2 linked regions of the Homo sapiens genome follow. The protein of the gene in region 1 interacts with the protein of each later gene in a biochemical or structural test. Each region holds a gene or a part of one and is shown on either strand. Other genes may lie near its edges. The genes, in order: NTF3 and LRP1.

What was found.
Region 2: the proteins of NTF3 (region 1) and LRP1 form a complex in vitro, tested with the Homo sapiens proteins (one study listed by BioGRID).

Annotation. Positions count from the first base shown.
Region 1 is NC_000012.12:5,434,993-5,438,799, reverse strand, and holds part of NTF3 (neurotrophin-3 isoform 1 preproprotein), read right to left. Parts: intron 1-3,807. UniProt on the Homo sapiens protein: Seems to promote the survival of visceral and proprioceptive sensory neurons.
Region 2 is NC_000012.12:57,127,027-57,131,477, forward strand, and holds the start of LRP1 (prolow-density lipoprotein receptor-related protein 1 preproprotein), read left to right. Parts: upstream 1-1,456; 5' UTR 1,457-1,938; coding exon 1,939-2,005; intron 2,006-4,451. UniProt on the Homo sapiens protein: Endocytic receptor involved in endocytosis and in phagocytosis of apoptotic cells. Required for early embryonic development. Involved in cellular lipid homeostasis.

The sequences.
Region 1 (3,807 bases):
TCATGTCCTACAGAGAATGTCCAGGGTCACACAGTAGCAGCTAATTAGTGACAGAGCCCAGTCACTGAACCTGGTCCTTCACTTCTAAGTCAGGCAGCTACCTGCTGCCTCAGGCTACTGAAGGTCACCCTGGCCTGGGCTCTTGTTAGCTACTGTTTCCTCCAAAATCTCTGGCCTTGAATGTTGGAGAACCTTAAATCTTCCAACAAATCTCTGACTGAACAAACCCACAAAAAAAAATGGGGCTCAACAAATGTCTTCTCTGGAGATGTTACTAAAAAGTGAGCAATCACAACAGACCACACGAAATTTCACGTCAAAATCTGTTCTGTTTCAATGACATCACGGTCAGTCATAGGTTTGTCCTGTGAGGACAACCAAAGCTGCGGCAAGCTCTCCGTAGTTCCCAATTAATCCTATTTGAGAAGGACCATGGCACAGATGGGGACATGAACAGCAAATGCATTCTGACCATGTGGGGGTGTGTGCAACCTCTAGCCTCTCAGTATTTTTAGGTAAAACAAAAGACTGAGTTATGGAAAACTATTAACAACAACAAAAAATACTTTAACGCTCTGGGGCCATCTACATGTGTTCTCACAGGTTCTAAAATGAGTCCTCTGAAAGACTTTTTTTTTTTTTGTCCAGCCTCAATCTTGTTAGAAATCCATCCAGGCAAGAATGAGGTAATATCTACACTGGCCTCATACTTCAAGGTTCAACATGCCCATATAAAAATGATCTGAAGGAAGGTGTCCCCAACTTTTTTCTCAGGCTGTCCCACCTGTAAGAAGCAATCCAATGACAATCCAATCTGAGCCAAGCATCCAGATACCTGCCACCCATAACATAAGCTCTACAAATGCCCCATCTACCCAGGGCATCTCCTACGCTCACGTGTCCCCCAGCACGCACGCACGCACATCCTGTGCTCTCCTCTTACTCCACACATGCCTGTCCATGCACAAAGTACATCCACAGACCTTATCAGCAGCACCACACGGGGCTTAGGCTTGTCTCCAGTAGAAGATTTGGTCCTTTTCCAACAAACTCATTTTTAAATAAAACTAAATCTAAAACCCTAGCAACGGTCATTAGTTCAACATCCCCAACGCCAGAAACTGCCTGCCTCGTTAAAGAGTAAAACAGCCGCGGGTGAGGCTTGAGGCAGGGTGGTGGGCTCTAAAGATCTTCTGTGTCAGCCTGCATCCCCTCTCTCACTTCCAGGCAATGCACAGACTTGCATTCCCTCCAGTTGGGGTGGGAGTGCTGTAACTGCTCAGGAAAAGGTCTGGAGAAGCTTGTAGCAGAAGCCGCCTGCTCCGTCAGGCATCCTGAATGTAGGGAAAGAGGAGAGGCCTGAACATCTGATACATCTGGGAGTGGAAGTGAAGACATGGGAAATGTTATGTAATTAAACTCTGCTGGCCTGTCCCGCCTGGGGAATGTGAGACCCATCAGCAGTGACCTCTTCCAATCAACTTAATTGGCCCAATCTCGCCAAGAAAAGCAACAGAATTAGTTTAGTGCCTCTTGGAAATAGCTTAGCTCCTGACTATTTATGGCCACTGAACTCAAGGATGGGAGCCTGACTCTGAGCCAGGAGTTGACAGCATGTACTGACTTCTGGGAGGAATCGGAGGTTTCAGTGTGTTTCCATGCCCCTCTACGACTCCATCTTCATCTCTGGGGAAAGTGGCTGTACCCAACTTGCTGCACTGGGCACAAAGAATTTCAAAGACCCAAAGCCCAGGCTTTCCTCTTACCAGGCAGGCTAGACTTTGCTCTTCTTTTATTCAAATGGTGCCTATGTCAAGGGCAATTATTATTTTTGCTGTTCTCCACGTCACATTTCTTTTGGTGCTGTGGTCTGCATAGCTGATGTTAAAAAATAAAGAAATGTCTGTCTCTGATCATTAATAACATTGATTCTTAGACTACCTTTCCTCTGAATAGCTCAAAGATCTTAAAGATTTCCATCATCTATAATCTAGGTTTGGCTGCCTCCAGCTTCTGGATGAGTAAACTGAGGCAGTTATAAAAAGTTTTATTTACACAATGAGTGAGCAGTAGAGATGCTGTGGGCATCATGATTACTGATTAAGTTGCATTGTAAAGAGAAAGGGGTCCAGATCCTATTTTCACAATGACCTACATACGTGCTAGCACCTGTATTTAATTACATTTCATCTTTGTATGGCTGTATACAACTAAACACATCAAGTTTTGATGGGGGAAAAGAGGAGTGAACTTTCCTTCTCCTTGAGTCATTATATTGCCCCTTTACAAAAAGAGAAACAGAAGAGTTATAGAGATTAAAAATGTCCCCAAAGTCACACTTTTCCCAAGTGGTAGAACTGGACTAGAACTAAGACATTCCCAATCCAGTCTTGCACTTCACCACCCTGCTCTCAGAAATATCTGCCCCGGATCTTCTGACCAATAGTCAAGCCCTATATAAACTATCTCTTACACAGATGAGTTTCCCTCTCAAAAATAAGGTAGACCCTTAAAATGGCACAGCTGTAACTTCATGAATTCAAAAATGTCATGAGTCAAATAAAGTCCTCCCAAACATATGCCCAACGGTGGTCAGAACCTAATCAAATGGGGATCCCCATCGTCTGCTCCAGACAGGCAGATGTGTGCATCACAAAAGCACAGCCTTCACTCTGTTCCTACCCAGTTGCCTCACCAGCCATCTCAGGGTATGGACCCGATCAACGACACCTTTGTCTCATTCCCCAAAGTCTACGGCCCTTCTTTTGTGTACACCTTTTTTCGCTAAAGATGCACATCTGAGTATCCAAGACAATTTTTATCCTTCCCCAGACACACAGAATTCCTGCAAAAACACATACTGGCACCCCCTTCACAAGAGCCAGAATATCCACCCCTCCTATCCACCTCGCTAGTTTTCTCCCAGTTACGTTACTCCAGGCCAAAGTGCATGTGCACGCACCTGCATGCATACCCACCCCCCCAACACACACTCAGGTTAGCTTTACACTCGTAGCCCAGAAAACATCAAAGATGAACAAACACTCCCAGTCCATCTCTTCCTTGATCATGACTTCACCATTCTCCAGCTCCACATAACAGGTCTCATTCCAGCTATGAAGGAGGCTCTGTGTACTCTTAGAAACTCAATCCTTAGAGGGATCTGGACCTGCATTCTGACCTGAAGTGCAGCACCCTCCAATTCCCAGCCCACACCCCACACAAGAAACAACAACACCGTCCAGCTCCCTTCCCAATACACAAAAGTCTACATCATCCCTCTCTTTATGCCCCACTTTTTACAAAACCAGAGATATATTTCAAGTCAGCTTCCCTTTGGCCCCCAAGATCCATAAACATCTCTAGAAACTGAATTATAGACCTTGAAGAAACCTCAACAAGCGTCGAGCTCTGTCTATTTCTGGCAAAATTGCATCAGTTTTACTGAGCCTGGAGAAGGAATTTTTCCAGGGCAGTGTGCCATGCCCCAGTACCCAGCAATGGGCTGAGCATCCAGTAGGCACTCCATTAGCTTTAATTGATTATCAATATGAACTGGTGATAGTGAATTCTCCTATTACATAAGAAACCCATTACAAAACATTATACAACATGCATCCCTGACACCAGGCACAGATAGTGCATTCCTCTACTTACTTCAGTCTTATGCACACATCTCTTCCTGTTCCCACCCAGTGCCAATGCACAAGGACTTTTCCCCTTAAATGTACATCCCTCATTCTAAGCCTCCTCCAATTCTCTTCTCTCTGGGGAGGAAGGAGGGGGGAGGCAAACACCAACACCAAC
Region 2 (4,451 bases), about 52 Mb from region 1:
TGGCAAGATTGGATATAGGAAGGAAAGGCCCCCTTGAGTTGGCATAAAGTCTGAGGTTTCTAGCCCAGGAGACTAAAGGCAGGTGGCCACCGCGCTGAGCAAAGCCGGCTGGAAGAAGCTAAAGGTTGAGCTCACTGTCATTAGGAGGCAAGTCCTTCGTGCTGCTCCTGTTTCTGCCAAGGACAGACTGGAGTGGGGACTTTTCCGTAACTAGAACGTAAAAGGGGGAACAGTCCCTCCTCTCCAGCGTCAATTTTTGGCAGCCGACGTCGTCTGCCCCGCTCCTTGAACTCTGACATGCAGACACCTAGAAAGTCAGACACTAAGGTAACAGCCATAAAACGCCGCCCAGAAGGGGGCAGTGACCAAAAGCACGTTCACTGGCCCCTGGGAACCGCCTGGCGCCTGCCTTCTGCAAAGTATCATTCCCGTGTGGGCTGAGCCTGGGGACAAAGGTCCGGCGCTCAGCAGACACCTCCTTGGAACCCGAGGCCTGGAAACGAAGGTCCAGAGTCCCTCATCTTATTCCAAATCCTGGCGCTCGGAATCTAAAACCCTAACTTGATGGCAAGCCAGTCAGAAGGTATTAAAAAAAAAAAAAAAAAAAAAAACAGAAAAATAAATGAGCCCCGACTTCTTGGGCGAAAGGGGGTGGCCTTTCCTCAACCCCACCCGCTGGTGACTCACCTCCCTCCAAACCAGGGCCTGCCCCTCCCGCGCCTAGGGCTGGGCGAGCAGGGCGGGCGGGTACTAAGGTGGGCTCCATCCCCGAGCCCCACGCGGGCGGACAAGCTCCGGCGTGTCCCCTCGGGTGTCCCTGTTTACTCCGAGCCCGGGAGCGAGGTGGGGGCGGGTCCTCGCGGTCCCTCCCCAACCCCGCCCCCTCCTTCGCAGGCCCCAATCCCAGTCCGGTCTTCCAAAGTCTCCAAATCAAAGCTCAGCCTTTCCCTGCACCTTCCCCGCGGACTGGCGGTCCCTGTCCCCACCCCGGGCAGAGGAGGCACCTTCAGGGTTCCCCTAGAAAATCGAGCCTCGGCCCAGACCACTGAGTCCCGGACGCCCCCGGAGGGAGCCTGAAATCCTAGAGTATGACACTGAGTTTCAAAGGGGAGCCGCTCAGCTCTCCGCCCACTGCCCAATCCCACCCTCGACCCCTTCTGCTCTCTGGAGCACCAGGGAGGAGGGCCCAGCCAGGGGAGAGGGCGCCCCAGGCCCCAAACTAGCCAGCGAGTCCCCGGGACCCTCACTCTTGGACCGCTTTCCAGAACTCCGAACCCTGTCGCGGGTCCGCGTCGCCCTCCCCCGGGCAGCGCGTCAAATCGGCGCATGCGCACTCACTGGATTGCCGCGTAGCTCTTTCTCCCCCCACCCACCAACCTTTTTTCTTTCCCCGCCCCTTCCCTCCCTCCCTCCTCAACCCGTCCCCTCCCTCTCCCCCATCAGCCCCCCCCTCGGCACTTCAGTCCGGGGAACAGCGGTGCGAGCTCCAGGCCCATGCACTGAGGAGGCGGAAACAAGGGGAGCCCCCAGAGCTCCATCAAGCCCCCTCCAAAGGCTCCCCTACCCGGTCCACGCCCCCCACCCCCCCTCCCCGCCTCCTCCCAATTGTGCATTTTTGCAGCCGGAGGCGGCTCCGAGATGGGGCTGTGAGCTTCGCCCGGGGAGGGGGAAAGAGCAGCGAGGAGTGAAGCGGGGGGGTGGGGTGAAGGGTTTGGATTTCGGGGCAGGGGGCGCACCCCCGTCAGCAGGCCCTCCCCAAGGGGCTCGGAACTCTACCTCTTCACCCACGCCCCTGGTGCGCTTTGCCGAAGGAAAGAATAAGAACAGAGAAGGAGGAGGGGGAAAGGAGGAAAAGGGGGACCCCCCAACTGGGGGGGGTGAAGGAGAGAAGTAGCAGGACCAGAGGGGAAGGGGCTGCTGCTTGCATCAGCCCACACCATGCTGACCCCGCCGTTGCTCCTGCTGCTGCCCCTGCTCTCAGCTCTGGTCGCGGCGGCTATCGACGGTGAGTGAGATTCCGCGTCCCCCTTGGACCCCTGGGGGCACCCTCTCCCCAGCCCCCACTCCTGCATACGGATGGGGAAGGGAGACGCGGGAGGGGGTGCCTTTTGTTATCCCAGTCCAGCTGACACAGCAGCGGCCCGACTGGGGGCGGGGATGGGGTCCGATTTGGGGGATGGGGGCCCTGGGCAAATGATGCTTCCGGGGCCCCCCAGCACAAACAAAGACCAGAGGCCTGGGTAGAGAGAAGAGGGCTCCCCATTTTTCTGATCCTGGGGAGGAGAGGCCTTCTTTTCCTATCTCTGTTCGGGGAGGGCCTCCGCCTCCCCTACATCCTCACAACCCCCCACCCCCCATCTGAATTGTGAAGGAATCCGGATTTGCAATGTTCGGCTGCAAAAGGGGGTGGGGGTGGGGGGGGTGGCTTTTGCACTGGCCTCTGTAGCTCGAAAGGGGAGCCAGGCCAGGGGTACCCTGCCGGGCAGAGGGCAGGCAGGCCCGGGAAGGCTGTGGGTGGGGAGAGGGAGGGCCCCCTGCTTGGGCGTGGAATCGACCCCAGAGCCCCGGCTGGAGGCCTGGGTGCTGAAGTAGGCTCTTCCCCCTCTCAGGGCCTCTGTCAGTAGCCTGGGGTAGGGCTGTGTTGGGGGGCAGAGAGGGGGAGCTCGCCATACTATGTGACTTTGAATTTTCCTTCTTAATTCCTGGGAGCTTTGAGATGAAAAAACGTCAGATGTCATCACTGGGGAAGGGGACTGGAGAATGGCCTGGAATGCTGGGGTAGGAGGGTGGGGGAGGCTGCCTTCTTCCTGACTTCTGGCTTCATCACAGTTTGGATTGGAAGGAGAGTTGGAGGTTGGATGGGGATTATGGCTGTGCCCCCACACTCCTTTAGTAAATCTGTTTATTCCCTGCACCCCTCCAAGCCCAAAACCCCATACACACACACTTTGTATATTGCAGAGTTAGGCTTAGGCTAGAACTGCATCCTTTTGGGGAAATGGGGTGCCTCTCTTCCCTTTTTTTGTCAGCTGTTTTTTTCTCCTACTTGTGAGTCACTGGTTCAAGTCTTGCCCAAGCTTTAAGCATTAAGCTGGGGTCATGGGGTTGGGCTGGGCTAGGTCCCTGATTTGAGAAGGGGTGGGATCTCATCCCCTCCTGTCATCTTAGCCCTCTCATCCAAAGACAAAACTGGGCTGGATACCATCATACACCCCCTCCTCTGTCTTGCCAGATTGGGATTGGGAAAGTTTTTCTCTGAAACCAGATTATCTCCCTCCCTCTCCCTAACTTGCTTCAATTGGGGGAGGAGACTTACAGGGTCAGGAAGCAGCTGTGTCCCCAAAAAACATATTTAGTGTCCCTCAGTTGTGCCATCTTGGGGACTCTCTACCCCCCACCCCCACCCCACCAATTAGCTGCCCCGGAGGAGGAGAGGGGCTTTTCCTGAATATCCTCCAGATGCCGCACAGCCGGCTTCTGCCTATAACTCCTGTCATTATCATGTGTTTTTCTCTTGTTCTCAGCCCTGTGAGGTGAGAAGGGAAATCGAGGCAGGGAGATTGGGGTTGCAGCCGCTTCTGGGAGGAATAGAAAAAAAATTTGAGAGAGAGAGAGACCCATCAGGAGCCCCTTGAAGGAGGGTGGCTAGAGTTAGGCAGAAGCAAGAGGGTTTCTGTGGAGAGCAGGGAAGGTCAGGAAGGGACCCCAGATAGCATCACTCCCAGGGCTCTAAAGGAGTTCTATTTGCCACACCAAGTTAGTGGAAGAGAGAGACTGGACATGTTCTCCTTAACTATCTCCCTACCCTTTCTTAAAATGTTCACCCACGCCCCCTCTGTATCTCCAGCTCAGATCAAACTATCCAAAGCCCCAGGAGAGGACCCCTCCCCAAACACACACCAATATTTCTGCCTTGGGAGTGGGAATATAAATAATCAGCTCCACCCCACTCTTGGGTACAGGGTGGTGAGAAAGGGGAATTGCATAGAAATGTAAGTTCAACTCTATCCAGAGGCAGCCTAGGGGATCCCTTATCCCTAACCCCTGCCCTCTTGCCTCAGGGTCCATCAACATTGAACTTTCTTGTTTACTTTCCAGAGAATGGAGATGACCCAGCTCACCTGACTTAGTATGTTACCTTCCTCCTGCTATCACAGCCTTGCTGCTTTCTCTCCAGGGCAGCAATCCTAGGGGCTTTCCCACCTCTTCTGCTTTCTCTTCTATGCCTGAAACTGCCTCTGGGGTCCCCTGCCCTTTGGGGAGTAACGTCACTCCCCACTAGCGACAAAATTGAGTGTACCTGCTGCTGGAGAGGTTGCAGAAAGATGGGGTGGAGAATGGGACTATTGAGGGCCCTGCTGAGATTGGGGAACATTTTCTAGTGGGGAGGGCACCCCCAGACAAATACAGCTCACAGAATAAGGCTGACTTCCTCCCTCCCTTTTTCCTGA